3 linked regions of the Homo sapiens genome follow. The protein of the gene in region 3 interacts with the protein of the main gene of each other region in a pairwise test. Each region holds a gene or a part of one and is shown on either strand. Other genes may lie near its edges.

What was found.
Region 1: the proteins of TNFRSF10D (region 3) and SENP2 interact in binary tests that used the Homo sapiens proteins (3 or more experiments, as listed by UniProt).
Region 2: the proteins of TNFRSF10D (region 3) and INPP5K interact in binary tests that used the Homo sapiens proteins (3 or more experiments, as listed by UniProt).

What each region holds. Positions count from the first base shown.
Region 1 is NC_000003.12:185,589,178-185,592,827, forward strand, and holds part of SENP2 (sentrin-specific protease 2), read left to right. Parts: intron 1-936; coding exon 937-992; intron 993-3,650. UniProt on the Homo sapiens protein: Protease that catalyzes two essential functions in the SUMO pathway.
Region 2 is NC_000017.11:1,506,483-1,510,132, forward strand, and holds part of INPP5K (inositol polyphosphate 5-phosphatase K), read right to left. Parts: intron 3,318-3,650; coding exon 3,201-3,317; intron 2,872-3,200; coding exon 2,696-2,871; intron 1,745-2,695; coding exon 1,633-1,744; intron 608-1,632; coding exon 498-607; intron 1-497. UniProt on the Homo sapiens protein: Inositol 5-phosphatase which acts on inositol 1,4,5-trisphosphate, inositol 1,3,4,5-tetrakisphosphate, phosphatidylinositol 4,5-bisphosphate and phosphatidylinositol 3,4,5-trisphosphate.
Region 3 is NC_000008.11:23,153,909-23,157,558, forward strand, and holds part of TNFRSF10D (tumor necrosis factor receptor superfamily member 10D precursor), read right to left. Parts: intron 1,072-3,650; coding exon 966-1,071; intron 1-965. UniProt on the Homo sapiens protein: Receptor for the cytotoxic ligand TRAIL. Contains a truncated death domain and hence is not capable of inducing apoptosis but protects against TRAIL-mediated apoptosis. Reports are contradictory with regards to its ability to induce the NF-kappa-B pathway.

The sequences.
Region 1 (3,650 bases), on a different chromosome or scaffold from region 3:
ACTTTCCTCAATTCCAAAGTTCTTTATTACCATCATAATGTAGTTTGCGTGATAAAAATGAAGTTAAATATAACACTTGATTAAGATTTGTCTTTTTTAAGTTGTAGAACAGTTTTTTTTAACTCCCTTACACACACACAAAAGAAAAAACAGTAAAAAAGAATTGTCTTTTAAGGCTGTTCATATTAATACTGTCACCTAAAGTAAAAGATGGCTTTCTTTGGGGATCATTTTCAAAAGGAAATTGCTTGTTTGTTGTTTTTAAATCATTTCTGGAGCGAAAGAGAAAATACTGTCCTAAACTCTTACCTGGGTTCATTTACTAGCTAAGTGACTTTGGCCAGTTTTAAGTTTGTACTTTAACCAGATGGCAAATTATTATTTGGTAAGAAGTTTGTTTCTCTCTCAAATAGTTGAAACTGTAGCAGTAAGTCTTCGCATGTGAAAAGCCTACTATAGAATAGCATTCTCTCTTTTGTTTTGCTTTTATTTTTAGTTTTATTTCTTTTTAAAACAAGGTCTCACTCTTTTGATTAGGCTGGAGTGCAGTGGCATGACCTGGGCTCACTGCAGCCTTACTTCCTGGGCTCAAGTGATCCTCCTGCCTTAGTGTAGCTGGGACCACACTCACTTACCACCAAGGCTGGCTAATTTTTTATTTATTTTTTTATCGTAGAGATGAGGTCTTACTTTGTTGCCCAGGCTGATGTCAAACTCCAAGGCTCAAGCGATCCTCCCCCTTGGCCTCCCAAAGTGCTGGGATTACAGGCACGAGCCACTGTGTCCCACCAGCATTCTCTTTTAAAACATCAGTTGGATCTCATTTTATGACAAAGTGATAGAAGGGGGATGTGTTATATGAATAGTAAGTTTACTTACAGAAATGAATGTGTGTGTAAATCTATATATATATATTTTTTTCTTTCTCTTTTTCAGCACTCTGTTTTCTACAGTGGACACTGATGAAATACCAGCCAAAAGACCAAGATTAGGTACTGAATATAAATTTTAAAAATTTTTAGTTTTTAAATAGGAAAAATATATGCATGGAACAAAATTCAAAAGGTAAAAAGTATCTGGTAAAAAGTAAGTCTTGGCCGGGCGCAGTGGCTGTAATCCTAGCACTTTGGGAGGCCAAGGCAGGCGGATCACCTGAGGTCAGGAGTTTGAGACCAGCCTGGCCAACATGGCAAAACCCTGTCTCTACTAAAAATACAAAAATTAGCTTGCTGTGGTGGCAGGAGCTTGTAATCCCAGCTACTCGGGAGGCTGAGGCAGGAGAATCGCTTGAACCTGGGAGGTGGAGGTTGCTGTGAGCCAAGATGGTGCCATTGCACTTCAGCCTGGGGCGACAGAGCAGGACTGTGTCAGGAAAAAAAAAAACAAAAAAACTTAAGTCTCTTTCCTGGCCCGACGTGGTGGCTCAAACCTTTAATTCCAGCACTTCAGAGGCTGAGGTGGGAGGATCACTTGAGGTCAGGAGTTTGAGACCAGCCTGGCCAACATGGTGAAACCCCATCTCTACTAAACATTAAAAAATTAGCCAAGTGGTGCACGCCTATAGTCACAGCTACTCGGGAGGCTGAGGCACGAGAATCGCGTGAACCTGGGAGGCGGAGGTTGCAGTGAGCCAAGAATCTGCTACTGCACTCTGCACTCCAGCCTGGGCGACAGAGCGACACTCCATCTCAAAAAAAAAAAAAAAAAAAAAAAAGAAAGTCTCCTTTTTTTTTTTTTTTTTTTTTTTGAGACAGAGTCTTGCTCTGTCGCAGGCTGGAGTGCAGTGGCGCAATCTCGGCTCACTGCAAGCTCTGCCTCCCAGGTTCACGCCATTCTCCTGCCTCAGCCTCCCGAGTAGCTGGGATTACAGGCACCCACCACCACACCTGGCTAGTTTTTTTGTATTTTTAGTAGAGATGGGGTTTCACCGTGTTAGCCAGGATGGTCTCCATCTCCTGACCTCGTGATCTGCCCGCCTCGGCCTCCCAAAGTGCTGGGGTTACAGGCGTGAGCCACCGCACCCAACCCAAGAAAGTCTCTTTCCTATCCCTTTCTTATCTTTTCTAGAGGTAACTACTGTTACCAGGGACTTGTCTAATCCTTGCAGGTAAATAAGCCTAGGTGTAGACTGTGCATTTTAAAATTCTAAATCATTCTACAAAGAAAAGATACTTCTTATTTATTTATTTTTTGAGATGGAGTCTCGCTCTGTCACCCAGGCTGGAGTGTAGTGGTGCAATCTCGACTCACTGCAACCTCCACCTCCCGGGTTCACACCATTCTCCTGCCTCAGCCTCCTGAGTAGCTGGGACTACAGGCGCCCGCCATCATGCCCGGCTAATTTTTTGTATTTTTAGTAGAGACGGGGTTTCACCATGTTAGCCAGGATAGTCTCAGTCTCCTGACTTCGTGATCCACCTGCCTCAGCCTCCCAAAGTGCTGGGATTACAGGCGTGAGCCCCCGCGCCTGGCCCTACTTATTTTTAAGGAGGAAATGTTGTAAATGTTTCAAACTGAGGTGACTCTAGTTCAGATGGCTGAGGGAACCCATCTTTTCTATTTTTTTTTTTCGAGACAGGGTCTCATTCTGTCACCCAGGCTGGGATGCAGTGGCATAATCATGGCTCACTGCAGCCTCCACCTCCCTGGGCCCAGGTGATCCTTCCATCTCAGCCTCCCAAGTAGTTGGTTGGGCCTACAGGCACGTTATCACACCTAGCTGATTTTTGTATTTTTTTTGTAGAAACAGGGTCTTGCCACATTGTCCAGGCTGAAAATAGGCAGCAGTGGCATTTTGAAAGAATACTCCTGTCTTTAAGAACCGGTAATATTTCTTTTTTTTTTTTTTTTTTTTTTTGAGACAGGATCTTGCTCTGTCTTGATCTTGTCATCAACAATTTTTTTTTTTAATTTTGTAAGAGGCAAGGGTATCACTGTGTTGCCCAGGCTTCAGTGCAGTGGCACGATCGTAGCTCACTGCAGTCTCAAACTCCTGGGCTCACACAATCCTCCTGCCTCAGTCTCCTGAGTAGCTGGGACTATAGGCCCATACCACCACACCTGGCAAATTATTTTGTATGTGGATACTGAGTCTCCATATGTTGCCCAGGCTGATCTTGGAACTCCTGCCCTTCCAAAGTGCCGGGATTATGGATATGAGCCACTGTGCCCAGCCAAGTCTTTTACTTCAGTATATCTGAATGGATAAAGAAAATAAAAGTAGATTAAAGGAAAAAGGCATAGTAAAATGCTATAATAATATATTCCTCTTTCTCAAAAATGATTATAAATTTGGGTCTACCTCCAGATGTGGTAATTGAGTGTGGACATATTTGTGTTAATATTTCGTTTAAATTCAGTGAGTACTTATTGAGCATGTCTCAGTGCTAACCAATGTGTTAGGTTTTACAGAAAATACAAAAATTAGTAAGACAGGGTCTCCTTTTTTTTTTTTTTTGAGATGGAGTCTTGCTCTGTTGCTCAGGCTGGAGTGCAATGGCACATTCTCGGCCCACTGCAACCTCCGCCTCCCAGGTTCAAGTGATTCCCCTGCCTCAGCTTCCCAAGTAGCTGGGACTACAGGTGCCCACCACCACACCCGGCTAATTTTTGTATTTTTAGTAGAGACAGGGTTTCGCCATGTTGGCCAG
Region 2 (3,650 bases), on a different chromosome or scaffold from region 3:
GTGCTTCTAACTACCAGACTCATGATCTCTACACTGATCCTGATGAAACTCTCTACCTACTACTTCACCTTCTCACACAAGACCTGACCCATTCACAGGCTGGGGCAGGCGTCCTTAATACCAGTAACTGGCTGGGCCAAGCTTTCTGCCCCGTTTGGGGACCAGAAGGTCTGGGGTTTCCCGAAGCTGAAGTGCAGTCCCTCCTAGGTCAGGAGGCAGCTGCTCCACCCTCTCCTCTGGTTCTATCTGTAACACCCCCACCCCCTACACACCTCTCCTGCCCTTGCTGGCACTGGCTTTCCTCCCACTCTCTCGAGATCTGGGACGGCTCCCCGAGTCAGCGCCTCATGAAGTGGACAGGAGGTGCCACTCTGGAGAGGGGATGACTAGACCAATTCCTGCCCCCCCTAACACTTCTATTCTGAGACAGTTCCCATGCCAGCAGGGTCAGTGTAACCTGACTTCCTAGACCTTCTGGCCCCCCACTCCCTCCTCACCTGGTGTCATAGTCGTTGGAGTTCCTATCAAACTTGTAGGTGGGCGGGAAGAGTAGGCGGCCCTCCTGGAACTCCCGGAGCAGCGGGTCATGTTTCTTGGCAATGCTGAGCTGCAGACAAAGTCATAGTCCCCGTCTCCCAGTAGTCTCGACCCAGTGGCCCAGTACCACACTCCATTCAAGGGATCAGCACATGCCGTCACAAATGGGGCAAGAGTCAAGCAATGCCACTCCAATTCCTCACTGCCCCAGTGACTACTCAGCAGCCCACTCCCACCAGAAAGCAGGCGAATCCTTTCGGAAACATTACCAAGGCCCAGGGGAGGCAGCTGTCTGCCGTTTCCCAGTCCTTAGACTGCAGGGACCCAACTTGGAATTCCATCTCTAGGGGAGATCACTAGCAGACATGTGTCAGAGGGGAACCTGGGGAAGCCAGGGTTCTCCAAAGGGGCACCTCACCCTCCAAGAGGGAAACGAGGCTGGGGATGGGAAAGACGACAGGGACACGATGGGCTGACGCATGATGGTACCTGGTGCAAAGCCCTTCTGGTTCCCTATTCTTCTTCTTTTTTTTTTTTTGAGATGGAGTTTTGCTTTTGTTGCCCAGGCTGGAGTGCAATGGCGCTATCTCTGCTCACTGCAACCTCTGCCTCCCGGGTTCAAGCGATTCCCCTACCTCAGCCTCCCGAGTAGCTGGGATTACAGGCACGTGCCACCACGCCCGGCGAATTTTTTTTTGTATTTTTAGTAGAGATGAGGTTTCTCCAAGTTGGTCAGGCTGGTCTCAAACCCCCGACCTCAGGTGATCCACCCACCTCGGCCTCCCAGAGTGCTGGAATTACAGGCATAAGCCACCGTGCCCGGCCCCTATTCTTCTTTTTTAAATAATTCATTTCATGCTTTGTATCTGACTCTCTATTCTAAAGCACATCCAGGGTCTGTTACCCTGGCTTTTCCATGTGAAGATCAGGCGTGGCTGCCTCACCCCTGGATGCGAAGCCCTGCTAGACAGCCTCCCCCACCAGACCTGGGCAAAAGAAAACAGCAGCGAGGGCATCTAGCAACACTCTGCACAGCTCACATGGCCCCCACCGTGGGCTCAGATCACCCCCTGGGACCCTCCCCTCACTGGATACCTGGTCCTTCTCCCACAGGCCACCGTAGCACCGATTTTTAATGGATTCCCGAACAAAGTGCAACCCAAAGTCCTCGATCCGAAAGTTCATGTCTCCAAACCAGATAATGAGGCTTCAGAAAAAAAGGAGGGCAGCCTGAGGATTTGTGATGAAGTCGGGGAAGGGAGATCACCAGGTGGCTCAGCCTGCTCAACCCAAGGGCTGCTGGGGCACAGAAAACCTGAGGGGCAAGTGAGACGCCAGGGCACGCGTGGGTCCTCTGGAACTGTTCTCATGGCTCCTAAACCACCATTCAAACCGGAGAGACCTACCAAAGAGCCTGCTCTGGCAAACACAGAGCAGGCTGTGGCCCTTCCTTCCTCTCCTTAACTGGTCACGAGGAAAGGCTGAGAAGCCCTCCTGGTGACCTCAGGAGCCACAAGGTCCTTGACCTGTTCCCAAGTGTTCAGGGTTTCTAAGCAAGACAGACGGGCTGGAGGAAGGGGACCCCAGGCAGGCAAAGCAAGGGGAGACAGCAGATGGGCACCAGGGAAGGGTCAGGGAGAGGGTGGGAGCCAGAACACTGACGACACTGGCTGGGGGATCCGTGATGGAGCAGAGGATGCTGGCTTGGGTTAGCGTGGGGCAGAGGGCGGGGAACAGTCTGCAGACCCAGGCTCACTCGTGGCGGTCAGCTGGGGCAGAGGGCGGGGAACAGTCTGCAGACCCAGGCTCACTCGTGGGGGTCAGCGTGGGGCAGAGGGCGGGGAACGGTCTGCAGACCCAGGCTCACTCGTGGCGGTCAGCGTGGGGCAGAGGGCGGGGAACGGTCTGCAGACCCAGGCTCACTCGTGGGGGTCAGCGTGGGGCAGAGGGCGGGGAACAGTCTGCAGACCCAGGCTCACTCGTGGCGGTCAGCGTGGGGCAGAGGGCGGGGAACAGTCTGCAGACCCAGGCTCACTCGTGGGGGTCAGCGTGGGGCAGAGGGCGGGGAGCGGTCTGCAGACCCAGGCTCACTCGTGGGGGTTAGTGGGGGTTAGCGTGGGGCAGAGGGCGGGGAACGGTCTGCCAGACCCAGGCTCACTCGTGGTCCAGGATGTTTGGGATGTCTCGCCCCTCACAATTCTGCATCTCCAGGATCCGGTCAAAGTGCTCCAGCCGCTGGTAATTGTTGGAAATGTGGGGAGGCAGGTGGCAGTTGATGATGCTGACATAGTAGCCATAAAGCTTCAGGCAGATGTTGACTCCACCTTTGTTCCCCTGGTAGAACAGGTCAACAGAAGAGTGGGAAGCTACTCGGGTTGGACACACCCCTCTTTCCACATCCTGGACCTGAGGGCAGACAGTCTCACTTCCTGCAGGGTCTCCTAGGGACAGTAACTAAGCTTCCCAGGGTGATCTCTCCATGCACAGAGCCCAGCTCGCCTCGCCTGGCCTCAGGGATAGCAAGCCCACTCTGAGGCAAAAGAACAAACATGCATTGGGCTGGACAGAGGACCAAGATTCCTTTCACTTCCTTTTTCTTTTGCCCAGCTCCACAGTTCCCAGCCCTTCCCAGCTCACGACTCAGACAATAGCTCAGTCCTTACCCAGTACCCAAACAGGCCAGTGGGGGTGGATTTAGTAGACAGAATCTGGATATAGGGCAAATGCTGATACTTGGCAAAGACCAGTAAGAGGATCCCCTGCATACGGACATGGGAGACCTGCAGGAGAGAGAGGGCAAAGGTCGCTCATTAAACCACACAGGCCAAGTGCATCCCTTCCAAGCTCCGTGCTAGGGACTCTAGAGAGCCCTCAGCTACATGCAGTGTCCTGCTCCAGGGTCTACGATATCCCAGTTTGAATCTCAGAGTTTCAAGCCTTTCCATTCTTCTTCTCAGCTGCCAAATGATACATTCTGGGGGCTGAGGTTTTCGATTCTGCGCCTAGGCGTGCGGGTGGCGGGAAGAGAAGATAAGCTAAGGATACTGGCTTTGAAGTTAGATCTGGGTTCAAACCCTGGCTCTGATTCTTAGTATTTGACATTGAGGCAGTTT
Region 3 (3,650 bases):
GTATCTTCCCTCCCATGTGCATTGGAGCATTATTTACAATGGTCAAGACATTAATCAACCTAAGTGTCCATCGATGATGAAAAGGTAAAGAAAATGTAGTACATAGACACAATGGAATACTATTCAGCCTCAACAAAGAAGGAAATTCTGTCATTTGTGACAGCATGGATGAACCTGGAGATATCATGCTAAGTGAAATAAGCCAGGCACAGAGAGACAAACACCTCATGATCTCACATATGTGGAATCTTAAAACTTGATCTCATAGAGGTAGAGAGTAGAATGGTGATTACCAGCGCTGTATTTGCACGGTGGGTTGGAGAGATGCTGGTCAAAGGATACAAAATTTCAGTTAGACAGGGGGAAATAAATTCAAGAGATGTATTGTGTGACATGGTGACTACAGTTATTAAAACAATGTGTTGTACAGTCCTGCCTTCTATTCACAGGGAATATATTCCATGGAACAAACTCTGCACTTACACAAGTCCCTGATACAAATTGGGATAGTATTGCATACACCCCAGGTACATATGCTTTAAATCATTTCTAGGTTACTTGTAATACCTAATGCAATAGACATGCTATGTAAATAAGTGCTTTACTGCATTGCTTTTTATCTACTTTTATTGACATGTTATCATTTTCATTATTTTTTCCACATATTTTTGATCTGTGTTGGTTGCAACCACGGATGCAACACCCACAGATGAGGATGGCTACAGAACCCACAGGTGAGGAGGGCAAAGAGGGCTTATCCCAGGGCTCTGTATCCATACAGCTGAAAATTGCTGAGTAGACTTTTAAGTGTTCTTACAACAAATACACGATAAGTATGTGAATTAGCTTGATTTAGCCATTTCACAATGCGTGCATATTTCCAAACATCATGGTGTACACCATGAATATATACAATGTTTATCTGTCAACTAAAAATAAACTGATTTTTAAAAATAAGAGTGCACCTGCTGGACACTCCTCCTCCTTGAGGCTGCGCCTCTGTTGCTGTGGGGCCACTGTCTGCTGGGGAACTTCGTCCTGCCGGGGGATGGTGGCAGAGTCAACCCGGACCTGTGGGGACAAGGCAGAGATGGGCTTGAGTGGCTTCCAGACCTTACCTCTCCCAGGCTCCGTCTCACATTCCCTTCACCCCAAGTGACAAAACCCATGAGAGCCTGGACTTTTTTCCCATTCCAAACTTTCATTCTTTTGCATCCGTGTTTGTCCCCTGGCCTGTTAGGTAGCTATTTTCTATAAAGAAAAACACCTCCGTATCCTTTTATCATATTATAACATAAAATATATTTACCCCAGAAAATATGAGCAGAAGAGTTTTTTTTTTTTTTTGATAGAGTCTTGCTATGTTGCCCAGGCTAGAATGCAGTGTCTATTCACAGGTGTGATCATAGTCTACTACAGCCTGGAACTTCTGGCCTCAAGTGATCCTCCCGCCTCAGTCTCCCAAGCAAGTTGGGTAACAGGAACACACCACTGTAGTTGGCAAGAAAAGATTTTATAAGAACACAAAAGGCCAGGCGCGGTGGCTCAGGCCTGTAATCACAGCACTTTGGGAGGCCAAAGTGGGTGGATCATGAGGTCAGGAGATTGAGACCATCCTGGTTAACACAGTGAAACCCCGTCTCTACTAAAAATACAAAAAATTAGCTGGGCATGGTGGCGGGCACCTGTAACCCCAGCTACTTGGGAGGCTGAGGCAGGAGAACGGCGTGAACCCAGGAGGCGGAGCTTGCACTGCACTCCAGCCTGGGCGAAAGAGCGAGACTCTGTCTCAAAAAAAAAAACAAAAAACAAAAAACAAAAAAACCACACATATGAGCCCTTCAAGCAGAAATAGCATCTAATGTATTTAGTTTGACCAAGTGTTTAATTGACCAGTGGGTGAATATTCTCTCTCTCTCTCTCTCTCTCGCACACACACAGACACACACATAAAAATACACATTTTTACAAATGAGGGTTACAATATAACCTTAAAGAAAGTCAGGATATAGCATCAAACATTAAGTAATTTCTGCTTCACAAAGGACCTTGACAAGCTGTTCCCACTAAATATCAAAGAGTGACAGAAAAAGATAAAACAGCAATTCAGGGATTATGGCCATGATCTCTGTGTTATAAATGACGACGAGAAGACAACTGGAGAATCGGAATAGAGTCTGCATATTAGATAGTGGTAATGTGTTGATGTTAATTTCCTTGTTTGTAGAAAGTACACACTGAAAAATTCAATAATAGCTTTCATCATGCCAACAGCTATTTTTCAAATTTTTTTTGCATAGTTTTTGTAACTTTTAAGTTGGGAGTGTGTAAAAGTACAAAATTAATTTAATTGTAAATTTACATTTAATTAAATTTAATATAATCTTGCTCCTGAGAAAAAACAAAATGGTTACAATAAAAGCTACTTACCTTGGGCTCTGTTCAACTACCTGGCTCTCAGCAAGACAAAATGTAGCTTTCTTCCACATGAAAGCCTGCCTAGTAGTTGGTGACAGTGAAGCTAATGCACATTTCCCAAATCCTCCCTTCTAGAGCTGGGGTCCCTCTAGGTTCAGGCGATGTCTCTGTCACCTTTCTCTGCTCTCACACCCTTACTCCTTTTCAAGAGCAACTATTCATTTTCTCAACTCTTTTTTTTTTTTTTTCTTTTTTGGAGACGGGATCTCCCTCTGTCATCCAGGTTGGAGTGCAGTGGTGTAATCTCTGCTCACTACAATCTCTGCCTCCCGGGCTCAAGTGGTCCTCCAACCTCAGTCCCTAAGTGGCCGGGACCACAGACAGGAGAGTGCCCCAATGCCTGGGCTAATATTGGTGTATTTTATACAGCTGGGGTTTCATCACGTTGCCCAGGCTGGTCTAACTCCTGAGCTCAAGCGTTCTGCCTGCCTGAGCCTCCCAAAGTACTAGGATTACAGGCGTAAGCCACCACACACAGTCCGTTTTGTCAGTTCTTTTTGTGGTTTCTATTCTATTTCCTTGATTTATGTTCCTCCTTGTTACTTTGGTTTAAATTTATGCTTATATTTTATGATTGATTAATGTAGATCTTCAGGCCATAAATTTCACATATTTTTCTTTTTTTGACAGCTTTAACGAGACACAAATCACATAATTAGTAATTATGATTATTCATATAATTCACCCATTTAGTCTACATTTCAGTAGTTTTTTAATATACTCATAGCTATGCAATCATCACTATAATCAATCTTAGAATGTTTTTATCACTCCAGAAAGGAACTGCATACCCTTCAGGAGTAACTCCCCATCTCCCCAATTTTTTTAATAGACACATTGAAAGCTGTATTATTTCACTCCGAGCACTGTTAGCCATTTCCCACCAGTTTTGCTGTTATATTATTATTATTTATTTTGAAACATTTTACCTTCCCTTTTGATTTCTTCTCTGAACCACAGATTTTTTAGAAGTGTATTGTTCAATAACCAAATTTTAGAATTCCCTATGGATACTATTACTGACTTCCAGTCTCGTTTCATTAAGTTTAGAGGTCATATCGCGTGTTTTATATCCCAGAACCCAGTCTATCTTGGTGAAAGTATCATGAGCATAGAAAGGAATCAGTGTTCAGTGGATGTTCCACTCCTGCTCTTTAAATGTCAGTTAAGTC